Linked DNA regions of Homo sapiens: region 2 is linked to region 1. Evidence: fine-mapped expression QTL. A gene starts in region 1. The other region holds a variant in brackets. All regions are shown on one strand. Distances are between the middles of the regions.

Evidence for each region. PIP is the estimated chance that this variant, and not a neighbour inherited with it, causes the effect. A credible set is the group of variants that fine-mapping cannot tell apart.
Region 2: its variant is the best candidate, but not a certain one, in a credible set for the expression of NUP58 in thyroid (GTEx, PIP 0.54).

What each region holds. Positions count from the first base shown.
Region 1 is chr13:25,299,489-25,304,874 of GRCh38, forward strand. NUP58 (nucleoporin 58) reads left to right here and starts at 2,137. Exons shown (of 16, transcript NM_014089.4): 1 at 2,137-2,392. The coding sequence starts at 2,286. RefSeq lists enhancers at 1,793-2,032, 2,193-2,272, 2,383-2,432.
Region 2 is chr13:25,330,773-25,336,158 of GRCh38, forward strand. NUP58 (nucleoporin 58) reads left to right here. Exons shown (of 16, transcript NM_014089.4): 13 at 585-786. Among named protein-coding and RNA genes, the nearest start is that of NUP58, 32 kb to the left of the region's middle. The variant T/C (reference allele first, on the strand shown) is at 2,437.

The DNA of each region.
Region 1 (5,386 bases):
GAAGTCTCCTAGACTTTATGTGAACAATCCTCTTACTGACCACCCTATAGCCATCACTGAAAATAGCTTTCTCTATATCACCGAAGCTTTAAAACTCACAACAATCTTTTATTTTTGCCTCCTGTTCGATAACTATGAAGTTTTTATTTATATCTTAATCCAAATATATCCCTTTTTTCTTTTTTATCATTCCCATTATGACTTCTATGACGTTTAAAATGTTATGGCCGGGCACAGTGGCTTACGCCTGTAATCCCAGCACTTTGGGAGGCCGAGGTGGGCAGATCGCTTGAGGCCAGGAGTTCAAGACCAGCCTGGCCAACATGGTGAAAACCCATCTCTACTGAAAAATACAGAAATTAACCGGGCGTGGTGGCGTGCGCCTGTGATCCCAGTTACTTGGGAGGCTGAGGCAGGAGAATCGCTTGAACTCAGGAGACGGAGGTTGCAGTGAGCCGAGATGGCACCACTGTATTCCAGCCTGGGCAACAGAGCGAGACTCTGTCTCAAAATAAAGTAAAATATAAATTAAATTTAAAAAACAAAATAAAATGTACGTTTCTTTTTAATTATACAAACACAGAGGTGGTGTATTAGTCTGCTTGGCTGATACAACAAAATACCATAGACTGAGGTGGCTATAACAACAGACATTTACTTCTCTCAATTCTGGAGGCTAAGTCCCAGATAAAGATGGGGCAGTTTGGGTTCCAGGTGAAAGCCCCTTCTTGCTCTGTCCTCACATGGCACACAGAGGAGAACAAGCTCTTCGTTGTTTTTTCTCATAAGGGCACTAATCTCGCCATGGGCGACCCACCAAGGTGACCTCATCTAAATTGAATTACCTCCCAAAGGCTCCATCTCCAAATACCAACATATTGGGGTGGGGTAGGGCTTTAACATATGGATTGGGGGAGGAGGGAAATAGTTCAGTCCACAGCTGGTGGCAATGCCCAAGCTCAACGGAAGATTAAAGTACTGAATTAGGGAGAACTGTGAGATGAGGTTAGAAAGACTAATCATACGGAGGTCATCAAGTGCCAAACTAAAGAGCCACTGGGCTTTTTAGATCATAAATCCGGGGGTTGCTTATGGGATGGATTTTGTTAGAGATCACGAGTAGGAAAACCATTTGGGGGAGTAATGTAACAATCCCTGAGGGAAAAATAAAAACTAACACTATGATGACAACCCTCGAATGCACCACCACCAGGAAGCCTTTCCTGATGCTTCGCCAGAGAGGTTCTCTTTAAACGCGAATTTTTCTTGAGTTATCCTAGAAATGTAAGTTACACCTCACATTTCGCCTTCTTTCGTACATGTTCCTGTGCGTTTCCTAATCCTTCCACTTTGTAGTTCCTCCAGCACCGGTTGTGTCCGAGGGCCCTTCTGGCGGAGCCACACTCGCTCGGCCCAAGGTCCCGCCCTCCAGCATCAGGATGCACGGACAGTATTTGTGGACTTGACCGCATCCCAGGAAATCCAGCGGGCCTGGCCACTTCTGGGCGCCAGGACCACAGCCGGCCACCCCACGGACGCCTGGGACGCTCTTCTGGGCCCCCTTCGGGGCTGGGCGTCGGGCTCGCAACAACTGCGACCAACTGGCTCCGCGAGGCCTGGGGCGCAGGGGTGGGGCTCACGTCGTGGGACGGTTGCATGGATTATTTTCGATTGATTTCCGAACCTTCAGGAAGCAGACACGCTCCCCTTCCTTCTTAGGGATGGGGCGGCAGCCAACGAAAGCCCGAAGCCGCCTCCTTTTCTGAGTGGGGAGCTTAGAGATGCTCAGGAGGGACCTCCCCGATTCTGCGATTCTGAGCATCAATTTTGGCAGGAGGCTAGATAGAAGTAGCAATTGACATTCATCACCCTAAAGTGCGGATTATGTCAGTACAGATGCTACGATAGAAGAACTAAAAAATGACAGAAATGGTTTTACTGTTTTTAAACTCTGGGAGCCTACTCCTTTAAGAGATTAGGCAGTACGCCTATTCTCGCCTGGTCCCAGCGTACCTTGCGCGGCTCGCCGTCCCCCACTCACGTACCAGGGCTCATTGCGTGACGGTTACACTTCCGGCGGGCTACGTGCGCGCGGCGAGCGCCGGGCGTACTTTTGCGTGGTTGCTCCACCCCCTCAGCCTTGCCTTCGCCGCCGTTGGGGCTGGAAGTTCCCGCCAGGTCCGTGCCGGGCGAGAGAGATGCTGCCCGGCCCGCCTCGGCTTTGAGGCGAGAGAAGTGTCCCAGACCCATTTCGCCTTGCTGACGGCGTCGAGCCCTGGCCAGACATGTCCACAGGGTTCTCCTTCGGGTCCGGGACTCTGGGCTCCACCACCGTGGCCGCCGGCGGGACCAGCACAGGCGGCGTTTTCTCCTTCGGAACGGGAGCGTCTAGGTAACCGCACTTTCTCGCCTTCCTGGGCCGGATTCACCCCCACCCCCACCCCCGCAAAGCTCCCTTGGTGTCCCCATCCTGTCTCTTCCCTCTGGCTTCCTTCCCAGTGGGGCTGGAGAGAAGCACTTAATCTAGCCGCCCGGCGTCGTAGGCCTCTCGCCGCGGTACCCGGGCCCAGCGCGGCCTGGTGAAGTGGAGGGCGGGATGGGTTCTGTGCTGTGAGGTTTCCAGAATCCACGTATAGTTCAGGCATTATTTGGACCTAGTGGGGTCTTGACTGCGTGGAAGGGCCTTGGGGTCTACCCCGGAGCTTTAGCGATGTGTCAGTCTTAGGCATAGAATGAACATTGAATGAATGAATGAAATTATAGCATACTGTGGAGTTTTATGATAGATAATTCCGATTTCATTGCAGCATTTGCGGTTTTGGATATGACGGTGTTTTAATAACTTTGTGGTTTTTAACCAGCTTTTCAAGCTTTTGTGCCACATGGGACCTTATCTGTTTTTGTTAAAAAAAACAAAAACACTTTTTTACAGTGTTTATTAGTGGTAATTTTCTGCAGTATGTGCAGATTAGTATATCTGATGCGAGAATGTTGTGTTGTAATAACTCAATTTGTCTTTTACTTAAATTACAAAACGTAGGTAGCATGTTCCTTGTTTTTGTGCAACCCATTAGTTCAGGTGGCGACAAAAACATAACTATCCAGAAAGAAACAAAGTGGTGAGACATTTTAATGAGAGATTTAAGCTTTAGAACTCAATTTTTTTTAAGATAAAGGTGGAGGGGTTCATAAAGTTAAGGAGTGTGCACACTGTCAACAAGATACTTCCTGAAGCTTAAAAGATGTGGCTGTAGATTTAAAAGGCAAATACTTAAGCATGACCTGCAGTTTAAAAAGGGAGGGAGGAGGAACCACGGACTACACAGTCAATTCAGAAATTTGAATTTTCATCCATACCTCCGTTATTCTTACTCTACTCGCTCAACAACAGGTTCTGATAATGTTACTTCTGCCATTTCTGTTTGTCTTTATTTCCAGTTCCACAACCCTGCTTAGGCTATTGTCATTCGTGGAACAAATATTTATTGGACAGATTCCCATGTGCAAGGCTCTGTTTTAGGTATTAAGAGTCTTGCTCTCTTGATCCTTACATTCTTATGAAAATAATTTTGATTCTTGTCAGATTTTTAACCAGCTGTCTTTCTTGTTTTAGATGAAAACTACTCCAATCAACTTCTTCAATCTGTTCTGCCACATTTTAGCCAGAGTAATTGAAAAACAAAATTCCCATTGCTCTCTCTTTAATCATTACCCGCCATCGTTAGAATGAAGTTTAAAAAAGAAAAAAAAACTTACCATAGTCTGCAAGGTCCACTTCTGCTGGAACCTCTGGGGACTCATCTTGAGCGGGACTCATCTTGAGCCCATCTTTTTATTTTAGCTATGCAGACCCACTGTTAAAAACAAACACACAACTACCACCCTAAATAACTGAAATGAAGTTTCAGAGAAAGATACCCTTACTTCATGGGATGCACTTTGATATTTTCTATTTCTTTTTTTTTTTAATGTTGCTTATGACTTGATGAATTAATTTTTATATTTCTCTCATGGTCCTGATCTTAGAAAGCCTGTCCTAGCAACATGGCCTTTTCTCTTTTCAAGTGGGCTTTGCCAGCCCCTTCCTTGCAAATATCAAATGGTCTCTTCCCCAGAGAGGCCTTTTCTGACCTGTCAGTCTAGGGGAGATTTCCATTCTCCTAGTACTCTTAGAGTGCTGATCACAATTGTAATCAGTTTGTTATATTTATTGTTAACTTGTTTGTTGTCAGATCTCAGCACTAGAATAATTAATACCTATGTCTCTCACTGACTAGAAACTGCCTGAGGGCAAGGTCTGAGTCTTAATTTCCCACCTCATTGTCAGTCCCAAGGACAGTGCCTGGCATAGAAAAAGGGCTTTAATAACAATTTGAATGACTGAGCAAATGAGTTATTAGTAATAAGCTATAAAAAATTACCCAAGTTTTAGAGAGGCTTGGATAAATTAATGAAAGAGGAGACTGTCCGACATAAATTTGTTAGAGTGCTGGTTGGGAGGCCTGACAGCCCCTAGTGCCACCTAGTGATTTGATGTCTTGAGGTTGGTCATTTTAGGGGAGTTCTCACATCTGGAAAAGGAGTATAATATATTACCTGAGTTGATGAGTGAGATGAAGTATTTAAATATTTAGCATCAAGTCTGGCACTTGCTAAGTGCTCAGTAAATCTTAGCTATTATGTTAGCTACCAAGTCTGCATTAGGGCAAGCTGGGCAAGTTAAAATAACATTCCAGATGTGATTGAGTCAAGTTGGCTTTTCTACAGTACATCCTATCAAGTCCTTGGCAGATAACATTGGTTTGAGGCAATAATTGGTCAAGTTTAGGGTAGCTTTTGCTTTTCTTGAATTTAGTAAATTTCACTGCCACCAAAATTTCTCTCTTGCTTTTGTGGTAGAGAAAAATTTCATTTTGATGTGTTTCTTTGGCAGTATTTTCAACTTTCATTATGTAATACTTCATAATGTCTTCAGTTATGTTGTCAAGATTATATATATATATATATATATATATATATATATATATATGTATTTTTTTTTTTTTTTAAGACAGTCTCACTCTTGTTACCCAGCCTGGAGTGCAATGGCGTGATCTTGGCTCATTGCAACCTCCACCTTACGGGTTCAAGCAATTCTCCTGCCTCAGCCTCCCAAATAGCTGGGATTACAGGCACGCCACCACACCCGGCTAAATTTTTTATTTTTATTTTTGGTATTTTTAGTAGAGATGGGGTTTCACCATGTTGGCCAGGCTGGTCTCAAACTCCTGACTTCAGGTGATCCATCCACCTTGGCATCCCAAGGTGCTGGGATTACAGGCGTGAGCCACCACACCCAGCCGGCAGTAATGTTTTAGTATCCCCCAAATACTCATTTACCCTACTC
Region 2 (5,386 bases), 31 kb after region 1:
CTCATTGTACAATGGTCAAATAATAGCAATAAAGTAGAAGCCCTCATCATACCCTCCAACCACTGCTGAGGTGCAACACCTTATTTTAGCATGTGTTACCCAGGCCTTCTAAAAAATGTATTTAAAAGTATGTATATTTAGTGCTGACTTTTTTTTCTTTCTTTTTTTTTTAAACTGTTTTAATCAAAAGGCTATGAAAAGGTTGGACATTTGAGGGGAAAGTTTCTTGAAAAACTGGAATATTTATTTTTAAATTCTTTTCATCCATCCATCTGCACATTGATGGAGTATTTAAATATTACTCTGTCTAAAAGCTTAGCTGATTTATTTTAAACAAGGCCTCACAAAGACAGTATTTTAGGAAGCATATTGTAAAGATAGGGAGTAAACTATTCAAGGGAGCAGTAGAACTCTTGAACTCATCATTTCCTACACCAAAGTGCATTATTAGCACTCTAATTTGCAGTTTGGATTGAATGTATAATATTGGGACTGTCTTTGGTAATTTATGGTTATATTCATCCACATATTAACCATAGTCAATGTGAAACTTCATTTAGCCGTTTTGTTTATTATTCTTTTAGGTTCTGAAAGAACAGTACCTTGGCTACAGGAAAATGTTCTTGGGAGATGCTGTTGATGTGTTTGAAACAAGGCGAGCAGAAGCCAAGAAGTGGCAGAACACACCCAGAGTTACTACTGGACCCACTCCTTTCAGCACCATGCCAAACGCAGCAGCCGTTGCCATGGCTGCAACACTTACACAGCAGCAACAGCCTGCTACAGGTCTGAACGCATTCAAGTTATAGCTTCTTACTGTTCCAATGCAGAACATTTATGTGCGTTTTTATAAGTCTTCCATTTGTGTGAGCACTGAAGAAATTTCTATGAGTAGCTGTTCCAATACAATCTAAAATTGTGATGGACACGATTATAAACATACCTGATAAAAAAGGCAGGGTAGTCTTAGCAATAATTATACATCAATTAGATATTGAATATTGTGAATCTACTTAATGTTATTTGCTGTAATGCTATAAATGCCCTTTAGAACATGGTGTTTCACTAGTGAATTACATTTAAGAATAACATTAGATTCTGAAATCATGACTGTACCATTTATTGTTTTAAAGTCAGAGATCATCCATCCATTCTTTGAATTTTTCATATATGATACTGATAGGTGGTGCATTCTCATTTTCCTCATACATAGTGATTACAAAGTACCCACATTCAGGATGAAGTATGCTTTTATTGACTGAAGGTATGTTGAAGATCAATAGGCTTGTTTGTATGTATGTTGACTGTAAACAGAATACAAGCCCTCTAAACCAAATTTTGAAGATGATACATGCTAGAATTGTACCTTTCCAAGGTGAACAGAACAGCAAGAGCAGGAAAAAGATGTTTTGAGATGTGGATTGCACATTAAGGAGCAACTGGGAAGTTGAACAGATGAAAATAATTGGTGACATGGAAAGCAGATTGTTTTATTTCTTGGTTTAGTTACACTTCTAATTAGAGAAACATTTTTTGTGGTCATTCTACAGTGTTTTATTTGGTCCTGTGTCTTTCGGAGGTTAATAGTTATCTTAATCCTGCCATCCCTTTTGTCAGGTTTGAAGCTTGACATGGAAAAATAGTCTTAATCGATATTGATTTTTTTATTTTAATCATTCATAAATTTCTTAGTAATGCTTACTATTCAATAGCATGTGTCTTTCTGAGAGTTCCATATAGTCCAGTAGTACATTATAATACACACAAAAAAATTAATACATATTTAGATTGCATTCAAGCTACCTATACTAGGGAAGCATTCTCTGGTTTTCACTATTGGCAGTTTAAAAAATTGTTCTTCACATTTGGAGATGACAGAATTGACTTGCCATAAGTAAAGGGTTGATGATAGATTTATGCCAAATCCTCCATATCCCGTGGCTGGACCCATGTGAATAGTGGCTCGCACGAGCACTGTCTGGTAGCTCTCTAGCTGGCTGGAGTGTAGGATTGCATTGTTAAGTTATGGAGGGAAAAAGTCATTATGGGATTGATTCCTTTGAGGATTGATATTTCTTCTTAAAAGGATTCAATCCCATAATTATGACCATCAGCTCTCATGATTACCTAACCAGTTAATCAAACCAACCATAGTACTAGTTTACTTTTTAGAGCCAGTATTAATCCTAAAGTAGATAAGTGTAGATTTGGTTAAGTGTTCTTTAAACATAGTGAATTTCCATTCTATTAAATAGAACTTGAGAAATGTCAGTTATATAAAAAGTTATGTTGTAAGTGAATATATTCTATGATAAATACCTAAACTTGAAGCAAAATCTCCTGTCAAGGGTTTGTGTGTGTGTGTGTGTTTAACTTTCTTATCTATAGATTATTATTTTGAGAAATTCATAGGTTTTCACTTATACATTTTGAGCT[T/C]GTGGACATATGGAGATGTGTGTTCATTCTCTAAATGAGTGCCTACTATGTGCTGGGCTCGAGGAATACAAAGGTAGACAATATAGATTTTGTCTTTGCCCTCTGTGGTGGTTGACAATGTTAGCTTAATCTGGAGTATTCTTGAGGAGCCTTTTGCTCATAGGCTTTAATTTTGTCTGTGACTTTTGCCAGGCTTTGGGGAAATTGACTGCCTTCACTCTTCCCTGAAACTTTGAAGTCCACATAAGGGCTTTCTCATCAGATGGCAGAAATTATAATTTATTAACCTAAACAACCTTACAGTGTTTTCGCTTTGAATTGTATGAATTCTTAGAACTGAGAAGCTAAACAACAGTGATAACAATTTTACATTATCTTTTCTTTCTCCTTTTGTTTCTCTAAAGGTCTCCCAGGCCTTCCCAGTCAAAATTTTCGTTATTTTTAGTCATGTCACCATGATGTGAGATTTCTGAGCTCTGTTAGATACATTTAGAAATGTCCCTATTTATCAAATGGTGTTTTGTACCCCATAAGTTATCCCTTATGCCCTGTGACTTCTGTGAAATCTTTGTTTTTAAGTGCCAGTAACAAATTTTAGACCATCTAGATGAGGGTAGAGAGAGCTTATGCATTGTTTTTATACATCACTGTTGATCTATACAAGATTTGAGTTATCAGAAGGGTTTTGCTTTTATTTGCATATGAAATTTTTATTAACATGAATATGGGCACAGAGCAAATAGCTTCTTAGACTGCTGCCTTCTGAAGGTGGCTTCTGTATCTTTCTCAGAGGAGGAGGAATAGACTTAAACGACTTCTTTGTCCTCCTTCAATTTTTTTTTTAATGAAAAAGTATACTAGGGCTTAGGCATGTGTGATTTACAGTTATTTGTTCTGAAGGCTGCAGAGAATTGAAAATCCAGCAGGCTATTTGTGTATGAAATCATGAGCATCGATAACGTGGATAACGTAGTTCCATGTTGGCAGAACTTGACACTTGTCTATAAGTGCTTCCCAAGCCTCCTGAAAAACTGAAGACATTTACATTAGGCTTTTCAGTATAATTTTAATTTAGGATAGGTTTTTTAGCAATGTATCTGGGATTGAGTTTTGCTATTGTGTTTTGACACTTTAAGAGTTCTTGATGTTTACATAATAAGACTTTCTTATGTGACTTAGCTGCTGTTTTAAGGAGAGCCAAGACGTTTTGTTAGGAATTCCTAATTTTTAGCTTAGTGTAGGTTTGGACATTTAAGGTGTAGTGTTAAATAGGAAACATTAAGTATTTCATCTTAGTTTCTTGTGGTTTTGTGATTTTGTTGTATTTAATAACCAAAGGAACATTCCCCATTAAATCAGTAAGAGTAAAATTTTTCAAACTGGGGAAAACGCATTTTAGGTTTTTTAAAGAAAAATTATTTTAAAATGTGACTTAGAAATAACCATACTAATTACATTAGGCATTTGGGGTGATCATGGAAAATTATAAAATATTTTTAGCACTTTAGTCCTTTTTCTGTTAATGCAGTTTTACTTTTAAGAAAGTAAAATTTATTCTGGAAAATATGAATTACAGCGCTAAACCTGGTTTTGTTGTGTGTGAATATATTATATGGTAACTTTTGTAAAATGTTACTCTACATGAAGATTTCACTTTGGCCAGTCATTGGTATATATCACTACAAACTTAATTTTATTTATGGAAATAAGAACCTCTCATTGGATGACTATTCAAATTTCAAAGCAGACTTCTTGAATTGTTTACGTAACTTTTGCCTGAAGGATTTAGACTGCTTTCTAATAGTGAAACTAATATATATGGTGGCCAGAGTGTAATATATGCTAATACTTTGGCATGGGAGATATTTATCATGAGTTTTTACTATTAAAAAATGTTATACATTTGCCTACGAGTTTTATAAATGATGTTGCCTTCAGAATTTGTGTGAAGGTACAAAACTAAAAATATCATGTATCTGATGTGCAATGGAAAGTCTTGTCATCATTAGATATGAGTTCTTGATTATATTCTGAATATTGATGATTAGAAAAATCTTATGTTCTGTTGCTCTTAACAACAGACCCACACACAACAAAAAGCATGCTATTTGAGTAACTCTTACGACTTACAAGGCTGAGGGCTGTGGTGTGCATTATTCTTTAGGGTCTTCCACCAGCAGTGCCTCCTATTAACCTGTGACAAACAAGTCTCTCAATGTTAAAGAACTGGACATGTGTTTTTTATGTTTTTTGTTAGGAATCAGAAAGTATAATAATATGCTTGGTTTCTTTTTCCTATAGTAACATTTTACAAAAGAGCTGCTAGGCAGGTATTTTATTCTCAAAGTGATCTCAAACTGGATGTAAAATTTTAAATTATTTTTTTAATAGTAGTATAAGAATTCTGGCTGCTATTAGTTATTGTTTGTTTTCTGGGTTAGAAGCTATTCGAAAAGTCCAGTTTCTGTCCCAGTGTAGCAAAATGTAGTTCCTCGGTTGTTTTTCTTTAAATGCTTTATAATTTTACACTACCTTTTTAATATACAAACCTCATTCTTCATTGGATAACTTGAAGGCTTTGATTTCTTTAAAAATTTAAATTTTAGTGTGTATATTACTTTGACAGTTCCCTCATCTTTGAGATGCACTGATCACTGTGCTTGAAAAAGACAATACTGAAGATTGTACTATGAAGTTTATTGAATAATTTTCATAAATTATTTATCCAAATGAGAGATTTTTAGATTTTTGTATTCTGCTTAGTTTTAAAAAAAAAAAATAGTAGTTTAAAAGAGAGGCTAGTAAGTTTGATGCTATTCTTGCCAAACAAACTCAGCCAAAATCTTTAAAGTAACAAGAGGGAAAAGGATGACTAATCGTTCTGCTTCTGAGTACATTTTCCAAAACGTTGGAAAGAAACTTCTGAATTGAAATCTTGAATGTATTGAAT